Linked DNA regions of Homo sapiens: regions 1 and 2 are each linked to region 3. Evidence: fine-mapped expression QTL. A gene starts in region 3. Each other region holds a variant in brackets. All regions are shown on one strand. Distances are between the middles of the regions. Region 1 overlaps NOC3L (NOC3 like DNA replication regulator). Region 2 overlaps HELLS (helicase, lymphoid specific). Region 3 holds the start of HELLS (helicase, lymphoid specific).

Region 1 (2,765 bases), 190 kb after region 3:
TCAGTAGCTGGGATCACAGGCATGCGCCACCAGGCCCAGCTAATTTTTGTGCTTTTAGTAGAGACGGGGTTTCCCCACGTTGGCCAGGCTGGTCTCAAACACCTGACCTCAGGTGATCTACCCGCCTCTGCCTCACAAAGTGCTGAGATTACAGGCATGAGCCACCACGCCTGGCCTAAACGACTGCCGCGTTTTTTGTTTTTTGTTTTTTTAAATAGTACTGGGTGTATACTAGACACACATATTTTATACTAATTTTGGGCTTTTAATGTTCTGATTTTAAAAAATGATTGACCTTTTTGGTCTTTTCAGACCCGAAAAGAAACCCAGAAGTTAAGAGAATTTGAAGAAGGCCTGGTTAGCCAATACAAGTTTTATTTGGAAAATCTGGAACAAATGGTTAAAGGTATATTAAACATATCTTCAAAGTTTGTAACATACTTAGCCTTGATCATGAAGGTGAATTCTGTACAGTGTTCTGTGTTGTGTAGTGAGAGGCAGGTATGGTCAGGAACAGAATCTAGAGTCAGACTTCCAGGGGTCAAATCCTGGCTCCACCACTTACTACCTATGTGATGGGAAAATTACATAGTCTTTCTGTGTCTCAGTTTTCCTGTCTAAAAAATGGAAATAATTATAGTACTTACCTTCCAGGATTATTGTAAGAAGTAACTGAGTTTGTAGATATGAGGTGCTTTAAACAGTGCCTAGCATGTACTATACACTATATTTTATCAATTATTAGTATTATTGCTGCAGTTTTTAGTAAGTAGTTGTATTTTTGTTGACTACAATGCATTTAACAAAATACATTGTTATGAACAGTTGGGATTTATTCTGCTGTTTTTTATTTGGAGGCATGGTAGTCAGGGAAGAAGGATAACTAGAGGCCAGGCGTGGTGGGTCACACCTGTAACCCCAGTGCTTTTGGAGGCCGAGGCAAGAGGATTGCTCGAAGCTAGGAGTTTGAGACCAGCCTGGGGAATGTAGTGAGACTCCTGTCTCTAAAAAAAAAAAAAAAAAATTAGGCATGATGGCCCATGCCTATAGAGCCCCAGCTACTGGAGATCTGAGCTGAGAGGATCACTTGAGTCCAGAAGTTTGAGCCTGCGGTGAGCTATGATTATGCCACTGCACTGTAGTCTGGGCGATAGAGTGAGACCCTGTCTCAAAAGAAATGAATAAATAAATAGAAGGATAACTAGAAATGGATATTTGCATGTCTTGAAAATGGATTTATGAGTCAATTATTTGGGATGATAAACTCTTAAACTCTTCAGAAAAGGAAGGACATAGAAAAAATAGGGGTAGGAATAGGGAAGACAGTTGTTGCCTAGGCCAGGTGTTTTCATTTGGCCTAATTGGCTCATTTACCCAGCTTATTTACTAAGATCACCCATTGCTGTCAGCTGGAACAGGACCACTGAATCCTGTTGGCCTAATAAGGGCATAAAGGTAGTGGAGTATAGTGGGGTGGGGGTGGGTAGTATGGATATTGCTTCTATGTTCTGGTGTTCCAGCTGGCACCCTATTAGTGTTTGTTCTTCCAGTGAGAGGGCCTGGGAGTTTTTCTTTTGTTTTTGAATTTCTGAACTGTTTGGAAAGCTCCTGGGATCTTTGTGCAACCATCTCTGTCTGATAGAACTATAACATGAGCCAC[A/G]TATGTCATTTAAAAAAAATGCAGACACACTAAAAAGCAATGAAATTAATTTTAATAGTATATTATATATATTCAGATTATCATTTCAACATGTAATAAATTTTAAAAATTAATGTCTTACATTCTCAGTTTTTTTTAGTACTAAGTTCAAATCTGGTTTGTATTTTATACTTAGAGTGTATTTTATACTTAGAGTATATCTTAATTTGTATTAGCTGCATTTCAAATGCTCAATTGACTCCTATATGTGGCAGTTAGTAGCCTCCATATTGGACCTTTCCTGAGCAGATCGAACCATTATGAAGTCTTTTTTTCTTCTTCTTTTTTTTTTTTTTTTTTGAGACGATGTCTTGCTCTGTCGCCAGGCTGGAATGCAGTGGTGCAGTCACAGCTCACTGCAACCTCTGCCTCCCAGGTTCAAGTGATTCCCCTGCCTCAGCCTCCTGAATAGCTGGGACTACAGGCGTGTGCCACCCACCATGCCTGGCTAATTTTTTTTTTTTTATGTTAGTAGAGATGGGGTTTCACCATGTTGGTCAAGATGGTCTCAATCTCCTGAGCTCGTGATCTGCCCACCTTGGCCTCCCAAAGTGCTGGGATTACAGGTGTGAGCCACTGTGCCCAGCATATGAAGTCTTTTTTTAAGGGGTGTGGGAATGTGTGTGTGTGTGTTTATGTGTGTTAAAATGTACATTGATTGTAAAAGAAAGCCAATTAGTTTAACTTTTGACCAATGAGTAAAGTAACTACAGTTATCTTTTGATTAGATTGGAAGCAGAGGAAGCTGAAGAAAAGTAATGTAGTTTCCTTAAAGGCATACAAAGGACTGGCAGAAGTCGCTGTGAAGAGCTTGTGTGAGCTGTTGGTGGCACTACCTCATTTTAACTTTCACAACAACATCATCGTATTGATTGTCCCTCTCATGAATGACATGTCAAAATTGGTGAGTTGCTGTAAATGGTTATTGCTGTCCTCCTTAGAAAATTATACACCATGTGGGCCAGGCACGGTGGCTCACACCTGTAATCCCAGCACTTTGGGAGGCCGAGGCAGGCAGATCACGAGGTCAGGAGATCGAGACCACCCCAGCTAACATGGTGAAACC
Region 2 (2,765 bases), 27 kb before region 3:
TCTACAAATGAAAAGCTACTAAAAAAAAAAATAACAGGCTGCCACAGTGGCTAATCCTACAATCACAGCACTTTGGGAAGCTGAGGCAGGAGGATCACCTGAGTCCAGGTATCCAAGACAACCCTGGACAACATGGCGAAACCCTGTGTCTACTAAAAATACAAAAAATTAGCTGGGTGTGGTTGCACGCAACTGCCTGTATCCCAGCTACTCGGGAGGCTGAGGATCACTTAAACCCAGGAAGTCAAGGCTGCAGTGAGCCATGAACACAGCCACTGCACTCCAGCCTGGGTGACAGAAGACTCCATCTCAAAAAATAAAATAAAATAAAATAAAATAAAATATAAAAATCTGAGAATAACCCTTACAAATTAAAATCAGGCACATACTTTTGAAAAGATCATTAGAATTGTATCTCTCTTCCAAACTTCTAATATTGTGATACTCAATAATTTATTAAACTGTTACACAGAAAATACAGTACGCATAAATAAGACGGGCAAAAGATATTAACAGATACTTTACAAAAGAAAACATACAGGCCGGGCATGGTGGCTCACGCCTGTAATCCCAGCATTTTGGGAGGCCAAGGCAGGCAGATCATGAGGTCAAGTGATCAAAACCATCCTGGCCAAAATGGTGACACACTGTCTCTACTAAAAATACAAAAATTAGCTGAACATGGTGGCATGAGCCTGTTGTCCCAGCTACTTGGGAGGCTGAGGCAGGAGAATCGCTTGAACCTGGGAGGCAGAGTTTACAGTGAGCCGAGATCGTGCCATTGCACTCCAGCCTGGGCGACAGAGTGACACTCCATCTCAAAAAAGAAAAAAAAAGAAAGAAAACATAGTTATCAAAGAACATAAAAATATACTCTACTTCAGTAGTAATTAGGAAAATGCAAGTTAAAAACCACACAAGTTACCATTTCTCATCTAATAAAATGGCTGAAATTAAAAAGACTATCAAATGCTGACAATAATGTAAGCTGGAGTTTTCAAACATTGCTGGCGAGAGAATAAAATGATGTGTTTACTTTGGGGGGGAAAATCTGTACTTTCTTATGAACACACATTTGCCACGTAACACAACAATACCATTCCCAGGTACACAGGCAGAAAGTATGAAAACATGTCTACACATGGACTTGTGTGCAAATTATCATAGCAACCTTACTCATAAAAGTCACAAACTGCAAACAACCCAAATGCCCATCAATAAGGGGATGGATGAGAAAATTGTAACATTCATTCAACAGAATACTAGTCAATAAGAAGAAACC[G/A]GTTACTAATATGCTCAACAACATAAATGAGTATCACAGACATGTTGAGTGGAAAGGAAATAATAAGCCATCCTATAAAAGGTGTAAAAAGTGGCCTCCTCTGGGTTTGGGGGTGGAAAGACATAGAAGAGATCCCTTTACAATGGAAATGTTCTATACCTTGATTTGGATGGTGGTTACACAAGTGTATGCAAGTGTCGAAATTCATTAAAATACCATACTTAACAACTATTTCTTACTGACTGTAAGTTATAAAATGAAGCCAAAATCCCATAGTAAATTACAGAAGATTACATCTAGACTTTATCTTAAAAATCCAACTAAATGTTTATCTAACTAAATCTTTAAAAATCCAACTAAACTGCACCCATAAACCAGTCCTTAATAACTTAACAAAGAATAAAAACCAAGACACTTTTACAATATAAATTTTGGACAAAATTATATGACCAAATAGATTATCTCTCATTTTATAAACATAACATTAATTTCCCAAAGGCCTAAAAATCTTTAATATGTAAATTAACTACCTGAAGTTCATATCCATTCATGAATATTTTCATGTCATGATTATTTTGCTTCCCTAGGCAACCTTGTAATTTTAAGTACTTGAACAATAAAAAGTCAGATAACAAGGAACCTCTCTACATGAAATGGGCTAAGTGAAGAGGTGGCTCGGAAATCAAGCCTTCTCAAACAGAACTTTTAAGAAACTTAAAAAATCTTTAAGGTCTGAAGCAAGATTAAGGCATCCCTCACAGCTTCCATAAGATGATTCACGGTTTATATCCACATGGTTACGAGCACTTGTATCACTGCCAGATTCACAAGTTAAAAGCAACATTGCTAGACCCATAAATTAACATTTATACATCAAGAATCATGCAATAAAACAACTAACTAAAGTTGATACATAAAAAAGAAGAATGTTGGATATGGAAGAAGTGAATACATAGGTATTTTTTTTTAAAGCAAAGAAACAGGATAATAGTGAGAAGAACGTATACTGCTGATTAAAGAAAAAGGACTAGTAACTGAGGAGTAAATATGACTTCTAAACTTAATCTTACATTATAAATTTCTTACCTCATTCTCCTTTTTATTTTTTTTAGCCACAGACAAAATTTCCTAGTAGTTTGAGAAAACAAAAACAAATTAATAATGTATGAAGTTCATTTATTTATTTATTCAACAAGCATTTATTCTGTGCTCATTTTGCCAGGAAATGAGGATGAGATTCTCAAGATAAAACTAGTAGCCTTCAGGCAGAAATAAGCCTATAGACATTACTGGCTCATAATATTTCATAACATTCTAGGCTAATTTGGGAACACTTATACAATGGGATATTTCATCAAATACAGTGATTTTCCAGCTTTTCTTTCTTTTAATCTGAGTAGATTAAGTACAAATTCACACATGGCAACAAACCTCTAGTCCTGGGGTCAGCAAACTACAGCCTGTAGACCAACTCCAGCTAAGC
Region 3 (2,765 bases):
ACTTACAAAATGCTCTCTACAAGAAAACTACAGCAACTTGTCATTGAAAAAGTACGGCACATTTTTAGCTAAAGAATCTTATGTAGCAATACACAGGCCATGAAACCAAAAGAAAAACAAACAGCAAGTTGATCACTTAGGTGGAAAACAGCACTACAGTATAAGGAAATCATTAGACTTGGATTCCAGCCCAGCCTTTGATTGATGCTAACTTCTCCTGCCCTCAGTCTAGTACATTACTTCTGCAGGTTTTAGCGATTCCTGTTTGCCATGAGACATACATTTAAGGTAATTTTTAAAGGAAATAAGGATGACAAACGAAAAAACTCACTATGGACTTTGAAAGACTTTTCATGGCTAAACAAGCAATCTGAAATGCTCATTTAAAAGTGATGGGACTACCAAGACTACATCTCATAGAAACACACCATTCAAAGCACTTGCGAAAGGATTCTCAAAGGCAATATCTGTAAACATACAAAAAAGACAAGTAATAAAGCTGTTTTCTTTCAGTTATTAAAAAGCCCACTAAATAGGAAAGCAAAGAACACAAACCACACCTCCGGGTTAAAGCCGAGGTTACCACAGGCTTTCACGACGACGAACCTGATGCCTAAATTACCTTTTCCAGCATCTTCCGCTCTCTCTCTAGTCCAGCAGCTTCAAGCTGTTCTTCCTCTTCTAGCATGGCCGGGGTAATCACAGCAGTGTCCAGTTGTTCAACCATTGCTGGAGCCTCCGAGCCTGACGGGGGAGAAAGCTTTCAAATTGCAGTTTTAAAAAAATTACCAACTACTCAACTCCAACAAGAAACAGCCTTTCTCCCACCCGAGATGCACTGGAGCAAAAGCTGAAGACCGAGGGGACGCCAGCATCACCTCTCAGAAGACACCGTAAGTCTTCACAATGTCTACAAGTCGCCTGGACCACAGTTTACAACTCGGGATGCTCGGGAAAATGCAGTTGCCTATGTGAAATCTTCACCGGCATGCTAATACGTGCGATTCCGGGGTGTCCTCCACTCACCGTTGCAGTTTCCCAACCCTCCTTTCCTCCTCAGTCCCTGCCCGGGGTCGGCTCCCTCCCCGAAACTCCGCCGCAGCCTCCATGCTTGCCCACCTCAGCCCCGCAGGCTGCCACCCGCGCCCAAAAGGTTTTCCTCACTCACCGCCGCTGCCCGCGGGCCGTTCCGCTGGCATGCCTGGACACTCACCCGGGAACCGGGTCCCCTCCTCTCAGAGCCTGCAATGCCGCGAGCTAACTCCTCACAACCGCTGCCGGCCCAGCCTTCTAGCCAAATCCCCCGCCAGGGAAAAAAGCGCGCTTCTCCTTCGCGGGAAAATCCTGTCATCTCGCGATACCTTACATTCCCCACCCGCCCTCCCGCCCCGCTGCGCGAGATTTGGCGCAGCTTGCGGTTTTCGTCAGGACTGACCTGTGGCAACCGTAAACCTTTACCTGGACCTCTCTCAGGAGGAAACTGGGTCCCGCTGCCGAACTCAGCCTGTAACTATCCTGTGAGATTGGGCGAGGTGGCCGATCGTGGAGAACCCAGTTTCCTCACATATCTGGTTCCGAACTACGCAATTAAAGTTTGATAGTGCTGTTAATACTTTGCAAGGCGCCTTCCAACGCTGGCTGCTGTGATTGAGCACCCGCTAGCCCATGATCCTGTAGGTAGAGACGTCTGCGTATCTGCACGAGGATGTCAGAAACAGAAACATTTTTATAGGGCCAGCCTCGCCGCACCCGCAGCGCGCGGCTCACATCTTAAGTGAAAAATCCCCCAAAATGACAAAGAGGAGGGCTTTTTTGTGGGTGGGACGGGAGAGAGAAGGAACAGGAAATTAAGATTATGACTGGGTTAAAGAAAGCTGTTTAGGATAAGGGCAAGCTGAAAGAAGTGATGGACCAAGCGGAGTGGCCAGCAGAAGGAAGATTCAGGAAACCAAACAGGATTCATTCATTCGAGTGGGCAGTGAAGGAAGGAGCGGAGCTTTTCTTGTCCCTGGTTTTCACTTCAGCTTTCAATTCCTCCTTTTCTTGTTTGCATTCCTTTTCAACTATTTCCTTTGTCTCCCTCTCCAGGGCTCCCTTTCCCACCTCCAATTTCTTAAGATGTATGGCATTAAATATACCTACCATGTAACCACCCGTTTCCTTCATTTTGACTCCCACAACTTGTATGATTGTGTCTATACAAAATTTAAGAGTTTACAAGCCGGGTGCGGTGACTCACGCCTGTAATCCCAGCACTTTCGGAGCCCAAGGCGGGTGGATCACGAGGTCAGGAGTTCAAGACCAGCCTGGCCAAGATGGTGAAACCCTGTCTCTACTAAAAATACAAAACAGCCGGGCACGGTGGCAGGCGCCTGTAGTCCCAGCTACTCGGGAGGCTGAGGCAGGAGAATCGCCTGAACCTGGGCGGCAGAGGTTGCAGTGAGCAGAGATCGCGCCATTGCACTCCAGCCTGGGCAACAGGGAGAGACTCCGTCTCATAAAAAATAGAAACGAAACCTAGTCTCTATATTTTATTTTATTAAGATAGGGTCTCACTCTGTCGTCCAGGCAGGAGTGCAATGGCACGATCTCTGCTCACTGCAATCTCCACCTCCTGGGCTCAGTTGATCCTCCCACCTCAGCCTAGCAAGTAGCTGAGACTACAGGTGCGTGCCACCACGCCCGGACATTTTAGTGTCGGACATTAGCCCATTCCAGGCTAATTTTTGTTGGTTTGGGGTTTTTGTGTGTTTTTGTTTTTTGGT

The links. PIP is the estimated chance that this variant, and not a neighbour inherited with it, causes the effect. A credible set is the group of variants that fine-mapping cannot tell apart.
Region 1: its variant is the best candidate, but not a certain one, in a credible set for the expression of HELLS in whole blood (TOPMed, PIP 0.57).
Region 2: its variant is the best candidate, but not a certain one, in a credible set for the expression of HELLS in whole blood (INTERVAL, PIP 0.87).

What each region holds. Positions count from the first base shown.
Region 1 is chr10:94,349,951-94,352,715 of GRCh38, reverse strand. It overlaps NOC3L (NOC3 like DNA replication regulator), which reads left to right. Exons shown (of 21, transcript NM_022451.11): 8 at 313-406; 9 at 2,428-2,603. Among named protein-coding and RNA genes, the nearest start is that of NOC3L, 12 kb to the left of the region's middle. The variant A/G (reference allele first, on the strand shown) is at 1,661.
Region 2 is chr10:94,571,033-94,573,797 of GRCh38, reverse strand. HELLS (helicase, lymphoid specific) reads right to left here. Exons shown (of 22, transcript NM_018063.5): 7 at 2,369-2,410. Among named protein-coding and RNA genes, the nearest start is that of HELLS, 27 kb to the right of the region's middle. The variant G/A (reference allele first, on the strand shown) is at 1,283.
Region 3 is chr10:94,544,356-94,547,120 of GRCh38, reverse strand. HELLS (helicase, lymphoid specific) reads right to left here and starts at 1,333. Exons shown (of 22, transcript NM_018063.5): 1 at 1,169-1,333; 2 at 623-744. The coding sequence starts at 1,199. RefSeq lists enhancers at 404-1,027, 1,028-1,652, 2,190-2,239, 1,653-2,277 and a silencer at 1,400-1,479.